2 linked regions of the Homo sapiens genome follow. The protein of the gene in region 1 interacts with the protein of each later gene in a pairwise test. Each region holds a gene or a part of one and is shown in the gene's direction. Other genes may lie near its edges.

Region 1 (5,104 bases):
GCACTGTGCTCAAGTGCCTGGCCCATCAGCCAGCAGGTGTGCCAAGGCCGGCAGGGTGGCTGCAGCAGGCGGATGAGTACTTTGCATGTGACACTTGCAGGGGAGGGAACCTTGGGTAGTGCCCTGTGTCAGAACAGGGTCTCACCCTTAAAAGGCGGAGCAAAGCCTGTCTTATCACACAGTCCTCCATGTAGTCACAATACATACCAGCCAGAGTGATGTGTGTAATGGAACGTTACCTGCAAGAAACAGGGCACAAAATTTCCTGTGTGCACGTGGTTGACGCGTGAAGATAGCATCTAGGAAGGCGCAGAGAACAGAAAACAGGCCATGCGGCACCTCCCTTTCCTAAAGACCGTTTACAAAGGTGCTGGCATTGCGAGTTCCTGCGTTCATCATTCATGTAATACCAATTAGTGCCTCCCACACTACAGTTCACAAAAGGCTGCCAAGCCCGGTGCTTGCTACCATGCAGACCTGCAGCCAGTGGTCCCGGCCATGGCCCTGACAGGCTTCCAGAACTCTGCAGCCGACTCCCGGCCTGGAAATCTTACCCTAGGAACTGCCACAAAGTGAAAATTTCGTGGAACTGAATAGAGGTGGTGGTGGTTGTATTCAGTATTACAGGTGTACCAAATGCCACTGAATTATACATGGTAAAATGGTTAGTTTTATTTTATGTGACTTTCGCCTCAACTTTTTTTAAAAAGAACCACCACCACTTGCTGAGTGTTTATTTTGGGCCCGTACCGTGCTGATACCTTGCCGTGCTGATACCTTACTGTGCTGGTACCTTGCATGAATCATCACCTCTCTTTGGGGTAGTTCTGCTGGGTGGCTCGGCATCGGTCCCTTCTGTGGGTGCCTCAGAAGGGTACAGGAGGGCCAGGTGACCTGTTAGTAATGGAGCGTTTGCTTCCTAGGTAAAGAAGCTCTCTGTGAGATTCTAGAGGAACCTGGTTACAGGGGATGCCTCTAGGAAGAGGGGGCTGGGGCAGGGGACAGAGATAGATTTACCTAGCTCCATTGTATACCACTTGAGAACTTTTACATTTTGTATCCTGTGAATGGTTACCAACTCAAAAGATAATTCTTTTTTGCTTGTTTGTTTGTTTGTTTTGGAGATGGAGTTTCGCTCTCGTTGTCCAGGCTGGAGTGTGATGGCTCAATCTCTTTGCAACCTCCGCCTCCTGGGATCAAACGATTCTCCTGCCTCAGCCTCCCAAGTAGCCAGGATTACAGGCATGTGCCACCATGCCCAGCTACTTTTTTGTAGTTAGTAAAGACGGGGCTTCACCATGTTGGTCAGGCTGGTCTCAACTCCTGACCTCAGGTGATCCACCCACCTCAGCCTCCCAAAGTGCTGGGATTACAGGCGTGAGCCACCGCGCCCAGCTCAAAAGATAATTCTAAAGTCAAGGGAGAACATCTTATCTACAGAAATGAAGCAAAGCACTGTCTCCATATTGTCATGTCAGGAATAAGCACACGGAGGCCCACCTAGATTCCCCTCTGGTGCATCCCTTTGGTGCACTCAGAGTCATGGTTTCCTCATCCATTGAAGAGCAGAGGTACTCCGGCCTCAGTGGCTACAAGAATCTAGTGACGATGGGACAATGTGTATAGAGCAGTCTCACACAGGGCCAGGCCCTGTGCCCAGGAAGTGTCTGTCATCTTCCTCCTCCCCATCTCATCCGGCCCTGCACCCCCCTCCTCTCCCACCCACGGTTTGAGTTTACCCATTCAGGACCCCCTCATGACTTTATGACTCCTGGTTTCTTCTCAGAGAAAGCCACAGATGGCTCCCTGCAGAGCGAGGACTGGGCCCTCAACATGGAGATCTGCGACATCATCAACGAGACGGAGGAAGGGTAAGGGCCCCCCAAGGAGAGGTTGGGGGCAGAGACGGCCATCCCACCACGCAGCACACTCCTGCACCCTTCCAGGGAGCCCCTGCCCCAGCCCCATTGCTGCCATAGCCACCAAGTCTGACCCAACCCGCTTGGCTGCAGAGGCCATCTGAGCCCCTAGTACCTGAGCCCCATCCAAGGTAGGAATTCACAGCTGGCCCCTGGGGGCTGCCACCCCACCCCGCCTCTCTTAGTGGCAGCCCAGATTCCACACGGATCTGGAAGCCCAGCCTTGTGTGCAGCATCTGCCTAGGATGAGGCAAGCTGGAGACTCTTAATCAGAAGTTGACCCCAAGCGCCATCTGCATTCTGCAGGCGGGAGTGTGTACTAGAGAGACTCCGGCTTTTCTGCGAGCAAAAACAGACTTCCATTTCCTTAAGATTTGAAACCAGCCTGGAGGGTAAGGGAGATCACAAGGATGGCAGGGAAAGTGAAGCTGAACCGTGAGCCTGAACAGCACTGGCGTTTGCCGGGCGTTTCTGGTGTTGGGGTCACGGTATCGTCTTGCTCAGTGCCAAGGAGCCCTGCCAAGGCACATGGTGTGGGGGAAGGATTGGGGTCTTGGCCTCCAATGTCTGACTCGTTGTCACTGACCAGCCGTGTGACCTTCGGAAGTCACTTTACCTCTCTAGGTCTTTGTCCTCGAAGGTGCTCTGTTAGATCCTTCCAGCAATAAGCCCGAGTCCCTGGAGGGAGCAGAAAGGGGATGCGAGGGTCCCTGTCCTCTCAGGAAAACCCAGCGAAGGCTGGGCAGAGGTGTGGGAGCCGTGGGCAGCAGGAAGTGCTGCCAGACGAGGCCTCCATCCTGAGAAATCAGTGTGGACCCTCCTTTCCCTCTCCAGTTCTCACTGGGATCATCCAGCTCTCCCGCGGCCAGTGCAGGGTTCCTCTCAGCCCGGGAGGGCTTTGCGTGGAGAGGCGCAGGCTGGATGCAGGTGGAGGGCAGGGAGTGCCCAGCTCTGAGCTGGAGGGAGGCTGTGGGCATCTGAGTCACACAGTCAAGGCCCAGTCAGGAGAGGGCAGTGGCTGCCAGGAACCTGCCGGTGTCTTCCTCAGCCCTGCTCCCTGATCTTGCCAAGGACTCATGAGAGTGAGGGTGAGGGAAGGAGTGGTGGGCAGAGGTCAGAAGAAAGAAAGCAGGAGGCAGAAAACCTCACCAAGCCTCTAGACAGGCCTGGGAGCTTCATGGACGTCGCAGCTGCAAGTCACTGCAGTATCCTTGGGGACAGCAAGCCCCCATGTCCCTTATAAACATGGGAGGAACAGGCTCGGCGTCGGTCAGGTGCATTGCTATTTATTTGAGCACTTTGTGTGTTCCAGGCAACACAGGAGGCACTAGGGACCCAGCAGTGATCAAAGGCAGGCATGACCCTTGACCTCACCAAGCATGGCACCTAAACTTAGCCTCGTTGCTAAAGTGTCTCCCCCACTGGGTTGTGGCCTCCTTGTCATACACTTTGTGCTCCCAGCAGAGTACCGGACATCATGGGCCCACAGCAGTGGCAAGGCCAGAACTTCCGATTCCCAGTGCTTCCCTCTAGGGAGAGAAGGCGTCCAACAAGGACGCTGTCCCTGCGCTCTAGGAGGCTTCTTCTCTCCCAGGGTGGGCCCCCAGGTCAGTGGCGCATGGCGGAACATGCCAGGGAATGATTCTGATTCCCTTGTGTCTAGGCCACCCTAGAAGAGGTGGAAAGAAGTCACTATAAAGCGCTGAAGTAGCCCGTGGGTCAGTGGCCAGGCCAAGACCAGGAGCCAGGGACGGGCGAGGGGCTGCCCAGGGAGGCAAGGGTTGGAAACTGCTCTCAGGCTTCTGGGCCAGGACCCCCCTTGGTGGGCCACCATCCCTTTCCCCACCGTGTCCCTTCCACCGCAGGCCTGACCGCCTCCATAGCTCTAGCCCCCAGGCAGGCTCTGTCCCTAGGAAGCCTTGCCTCTGCCTTCACTCCTGCTGAGAACCAGTGCCAGGGTTCCAGGCTCTCCTGCCTTAGTCCTGGATGGGGTCAGCACTGACAGCCAGGCAGACAGCCGGATGGGTCCCAGTGGCCACTGGCCAGGCTGAGAAATGTTACTTGTGCTTCAGTAGTGTGATGGGCTCTAGGAAGGGAAGCTGTCCAAAGAGAACACCATCCCTGCCCTCTAGCAAGCTTCTTCTCTACCCAGGGTGGGCCCCCAGTTCAATGTGGCATGGCAGAACAGGCCAGGGAGACTGGAGGACCTGGGAAAGTGTTGTGGAAGGGGTGGATTTTAGCTGAGGCTTCACCTCATGGATGTGGAGGTCAGGAGCCTTCAGGGTGCAAGTGGGGGCCCTGCACAAAGGCTTTTAGACAAGAGCAGTCAGGGCAGCACTGAGTATACCTGTATAGGGCCGAGGGTGGAGGATGGTGGGAATCACAGAGGGGACAGGGAGAGCAGGCTGGCACCCCAGCTTCCAGGGGCCTCCCAACACCGTGACCCCTAGGCTTCTTCAGCCCTCCCCGACCTCCCCCACACTCAGTGTGGCCTCCTCTTAGTTCCTCCAAGGCATCAAGCTCCTCTGCACCCAAGACCTTGGTCCAGGCTCTGACCTTGACCCAAACTGCTCTGCCCCCACTCCCCCCAGGTGGTCCTTCCCATCTTTCAAGGCCCAACTACAAGACCACCCCCTCGGAGGTCTTTTCTGACCACCCCCATCCTCACCTCTGCTCTTTTTCCAGGACCTGCTTATTCCTTGCTCTTCTTTGGATCTCCCCGCAAGGTGGGGAGGAGGCAGGGCCATATGGTCTTGTTTGCCACTGTGTCCCCAGCACCTAGCATGGTGCTACATACATATTGGGTGCTTAATAAGAGTTGAATGGGCCAGACATGGTGGCTCACACTGGTAGTCTCAGCGTTTTGGGAGGCTGAGGCAGGAGGATCACTTGAGCCCAGGAGTTCCGGGCTACAGCGAGCTGTGATTGCACCACTGCACTCCAGCCTGGGCGACAGAGTGAGACTCTGTCTCAGAAGGAAAAAAAAAAAAAACTTGAATGGAAGGGTAAATGGACAGATAGAGCAGCTGGCCAGGACGGGGCATCAGAACACTATGCTAGCTGGGCTCAGGGACTCATGCCTGTAATCACAACATATTGGGAGGCCGAGGTGGGAGAATCATTTGAGCCCAGGAGTTTGAGACCAGCCTGGGCAACATAGCAAGACCCCATCTCTATTTTTGTAA
Region 2 (4,301 bases), on another chromosome or scaffold:
TGTTCAAGTGATTATCCTGCCTCAGCCTCCTGAGTAGCTGGGATTACAGGCGCCCAATATCACACCTGGCTAATTTTTGTATTTTTAGTAGAGACGGGGTTTCACCATGTTGGCCAGGCTGGTCTCAAACTCCTGACCTCAGGCGATCCGTCTGCCTTGGCCTCCCAAAGTACTGGGATTATAGTCGTGAGCCACTGTGTCTGGCCTCTTTTTTATTTATTTTGTTTTTATTTATTTATTTTTGAGACAGTCTCGCCCAGGCTGGAGTGCAGTGGCGCAGTCACGGCTCACTTGAACTCCTGGGTTTAAGTGATTCTCCCACCTCAGCCTCCCAAGTAGCTGGGACCACAGGGGTGCACCACCATGTCTGGCTAATTTTTAATTTTTTTGTAGAGACAGTGTCTCCCTATGTTGCTCAGGCTGATCTAGAATGCCTGGGCTCAAGCCATCCTCCTGCCTCAGCCTCCCAAAGTGCTGGGATGACAGGTGTAAGCCACCATGCCCGGCCTAGTAGCCACATTTTGAAAGGTACAAAGAAACAGGTGAAATTAACAATACATTTTACTTAACTTCATATATCTAAGCTGTGGTCATTTTAATATATCAATATAAGAAATTATTAATGAGATATTTTACATTCATTTTTTCCTACTAAGTTTTGAAACCCAGGGTGTATTTTTACATTGACATTCTATCCCAAATTGAATGCTAAATTTTTATCAAAAAACATTTTGATCTATATTCAGTGTTCATCAAATTTACCATTGAAAAAATGATTCATATATTCAAGTTGTCCCAGACTTACATAAAAGCTTCCCAATAATTGAATTGTTAGTTTTCACATTTAAATTGCTTAAACTTAAATACAAGTAAAAATTCATTGGCAAGTAAAAAGATGAAAAAGAAGCTAAAACAAAAAAAATTCAGTTCTTCACTCACACTAGCTCATTTCTTTTTTTCTTTTAGACATAGAGTGTCGCTCTGTCACCCAGGCTAGAGTGCAGTGGCATGATCATGGCTCACTGTAGCCTCCACCTGCTAGGCTCAAGTGATCCTCCTACCTCAGCCTCCTGGGTAGCTGGGACCAGAAGTGTGCAACACCATGCCTGGCTAATTTTTTTAATTTTTAAAATTTTGTAGAGAGAGGGTATCACTATGTTGTCTAGGCTGGTCTTGAACTCCTGGGCTCAAGTAATCCCACTGCCTCGACCTCCCAAAGTGCTGGGATTGCAGTCATGAGCCCCCGTGCCCGGCCACAAGCCACATTTTAGACGCCCAATAACCTTACGTGACTGGTGGCTGCTATATTGGGCAGCAGATACAGAGCATTTCCATCCTCACAGAAGATTCTGTTGGACAGCACTCTGATAGAAAGAAGTCTTGAACACGTGTTCTCCAAGGGACTTTCAAAGTTTTCTAGAATGCAGCCCCAACCTATCTTTACTTACTGACTTTCTTTTTATCACGTTCACTCCCCCGCCTCTATTCCACTTTGTTTCGTTTGTTTGTTTTTGAGACAGAGTCTCGCTCTGTTTCCCAGGCTGGAGTGCAGTGGAGTGATCATGGCTCACTGCAGCCTCAACCTCCTAGGATTAAGCAATCCTCCTGCCTCAGCCTCCTAAGTAGCTGGGATTACAGGTGTGTGCCACTACACCTGGCTACTTTTTTTATTCGTTGTAGAGACAGGGTCTCACTATGTTGCCCAGGCTGGTGGTGAATTCCTGGGCTCAAGTGATCCTCCTGCCTCAACCTCCCAAAGTACTGGGATTACAGGCATGAGCCACTGCACCCAGCCCTTTTGTTTTGTTTTGTTTTAGAGATGGGGGTCTCACCATGTTGCCCAGGTTAGTCTTGAGATCCTGGGCTCAGGCTATCCTGCCACCTCGGCTCCACAGAGTGCTGGGATTACAGGTGAGCCACCGCACCTGGTCTCTGTTTCCACTTTGAGGTGAATACCCTTTCTTCGGTTCCTCCAGAGAAGTCTCCTCTTTGGGGCTTGGTTTAGAGGCAGGGCTTCTGAGAAGGACTCTACCCTTCTCCCTGCAGTGGGATTAATTGCTGCCTTGGCTTCCCACGAGTTCTAGAAAATGAGGCAGACAGTGTCGGGAGAGGGGAGTGGTGGTTGTGGCTCGCTGCCCCGGAGCCTCATTTCCCATTTCTCCCGAGACAGGTTTGAATGGCTCTTCTAAGGCAGCCTGAACCCTGCCCAGTTAGAAAAACAGCCACACAAAGAACAGCACTGTGTCTGCTTCCAGCTGCCCCATGGCTGCTGGATCATGGAACATCAGACAGGAGCACACTCTGGGTGCAGGGTGTAATTCTAGGCGAGCAGCAGCTCTGCCAGGGCTGGAGGGAAATCCTTTCTTTGCCCTCACAAAAGAAAATGTGTGCCTGGCTGCTCTGGTGCTCATTTTTCAAAATGAGAACTGGAGTCTATGTGTATTTCCTTCTTAAAAAGCTATAACACAGAGGCTGGGCGCGGTGGCTCATGCCTTTAATCCCAGCACATTGGGAAGCCAAGGCGGGAGGTTCACTTGCCCCCAGGAGTACAAGACCAGCCTAGATAGCAAAGTGAGACCCCCATCTCTACAAAAAATGAAAACATTAGCCGGGCGGGGGGGCACATGCCTGTAGTCCCAGCTACCTGGGAGGCTGAGGCAGGAAGATCACCTGAGCCTGGGTGGTGGAGGCTGCAGTGAGCTGAGATCACACCACTGCACTGTAGCCTGGGTGACAGATCTTGTCTCAAAAAAATAAAACAAAACAAAAAACAAAACTATAACACACATACAAAAAAGTATATACATTTTAATTGTACAACTGAGATTTTTACAGACTGAACATACCTCTGTAACCAGCCCCCAGGTGAAGAAAGAGAACAGGACCCGCCCCCCGCAAAGGCCCCCTCATACCCCTTTCCAGATTCTTCTTCCTCTTCCAAGAGTAACCGCTCCATGGATTCATTTTGCCTATTTCTGACCTTTATTTAAATAGCATCATACAGTGTGCATTTTGTGGCATCTGGCCCCTTTGCTATTTGTGATAATTTGTGGTTGGTTTTTGAATGCCTTTATCTTTTCCGTTACCTGAAACAGTTAGTGAAAACCACAGTGGTTTAAAAACCAAAAAAACCACAAAAAAACAAACAAAAAAAAACAACGAAGAAGAAACACCAGATATGGAAGGTACGTAGGTCATTGTCTGGTAATGGTTTAAGATGTGAAGAAGAAATGACCCTTATTTGGTTGATGTTTCCACTTTGGATTTTCCAGGTTTTGGTGATTTTGGGTAGTAATTATTTACTTTTTGATTAATTCTGGGGTCTTGAAGGGACATTAACCCTCTTCCTAGCTTTTGGACAAAGCTGGATGGAAGTCATTTTCTCAGAATTTCTGTTTGCCAGAAAGAAAATTGAAGACTTAGGTGAAAAAGAGAGGGAGAGATCAACTGAATTTCTTATCTGGTATGTTCTGTTTCTGTTTTAGGTAAAATGTCGGTTCCAGGACCTTACCAGGCGGCCACTGGGCCTTCCTCAGCACCATCCGCACCTCCATCCTATGAAGAGACAGTGGCTGTTAACAGTTATTACCCCACACCTCCAGCTCCCATGCCTGGGCCAACTACGGGGCTTGTGACGGGGCCTGATGGGAAGGGCATGAATCCTCCTTCGTATTATACCCAGCCAGCGCCCATCCCCAATAACAATCCAAGTACGTGTGGCCTCCCAGGCCCCCCTTACCATTCCTTGGCCCTCCACCCTGGGAATCAGGAGAGTGACCGAAGTGACTCTGCCAAAGAGTCTAAGTGAAGTGCCAGTACGTTCCAGTTTTACCCCCTTACCTTGAAATTCCACACGCAGTCTTTTAGATTCCATGTTGGTGAGGCTCACAGCTTTTCCGTAATAAAGTATGGTTTAGGATCTTTCCCATGGTCATCATATACGAATCTTTTGGCACATCTCTTGGAGGCACAACCAACTTTCTTCTGAGAATGGGAGTTTGTGTCTTAAGGGCCCGCACACTTCCTCCTGAGGTCTGATGCAGAACTTCTGCCCTGAGGCCAGGGCCGAGGTAGGAATAGGGAGGAGAAGAAACCGTCCTGAGCAATGTGTGATTGTGTTTTCATACCAGCTCACCCTCAATGCAAGTTGCTCTTCTGCTTTTGAGCAACTAGATGGTCCCTGTCCTTTGGTGCTTCCTTCCGCCCAAGGGTGCCCTGGTATGTCACTGCTTTAGTATCACAGGTAGTTCTGAAAGAAATCTTTAGCTCAGAGAGGGGGCCCGTGAATCAGACTGCCTGGG

What was found.
Region 2: the proteins of TOM1 (region 1) and LITAF interact in a two-hybrid assay, tested with the Homo sapiens proteins (one large-scale study listed by BioGRID and IntAct).

Annotation. Positions count from the first base shown.
Region 1 is NC_000022.11:35,316,091-35,321,194, forward strand, and holds part of TOM1 (target of Myb1 membrane trafficking protein), read left to right. Parts: intron 1-1,786; coding exon 1,787-1,871; intron 1,872-5,104.
Region 2 is NC_000016.10:11,555,920-11,560,220, reverse strand, and holds part of LITAF (lipopolysaccharide-induced tumor necrosis factor-alpha factor), read left to right. Parts: intron 1-3,485; coding exon of another isoform or gene 3,486-3,490; coding exon 3,491-3,710; intron 3,711-4,301.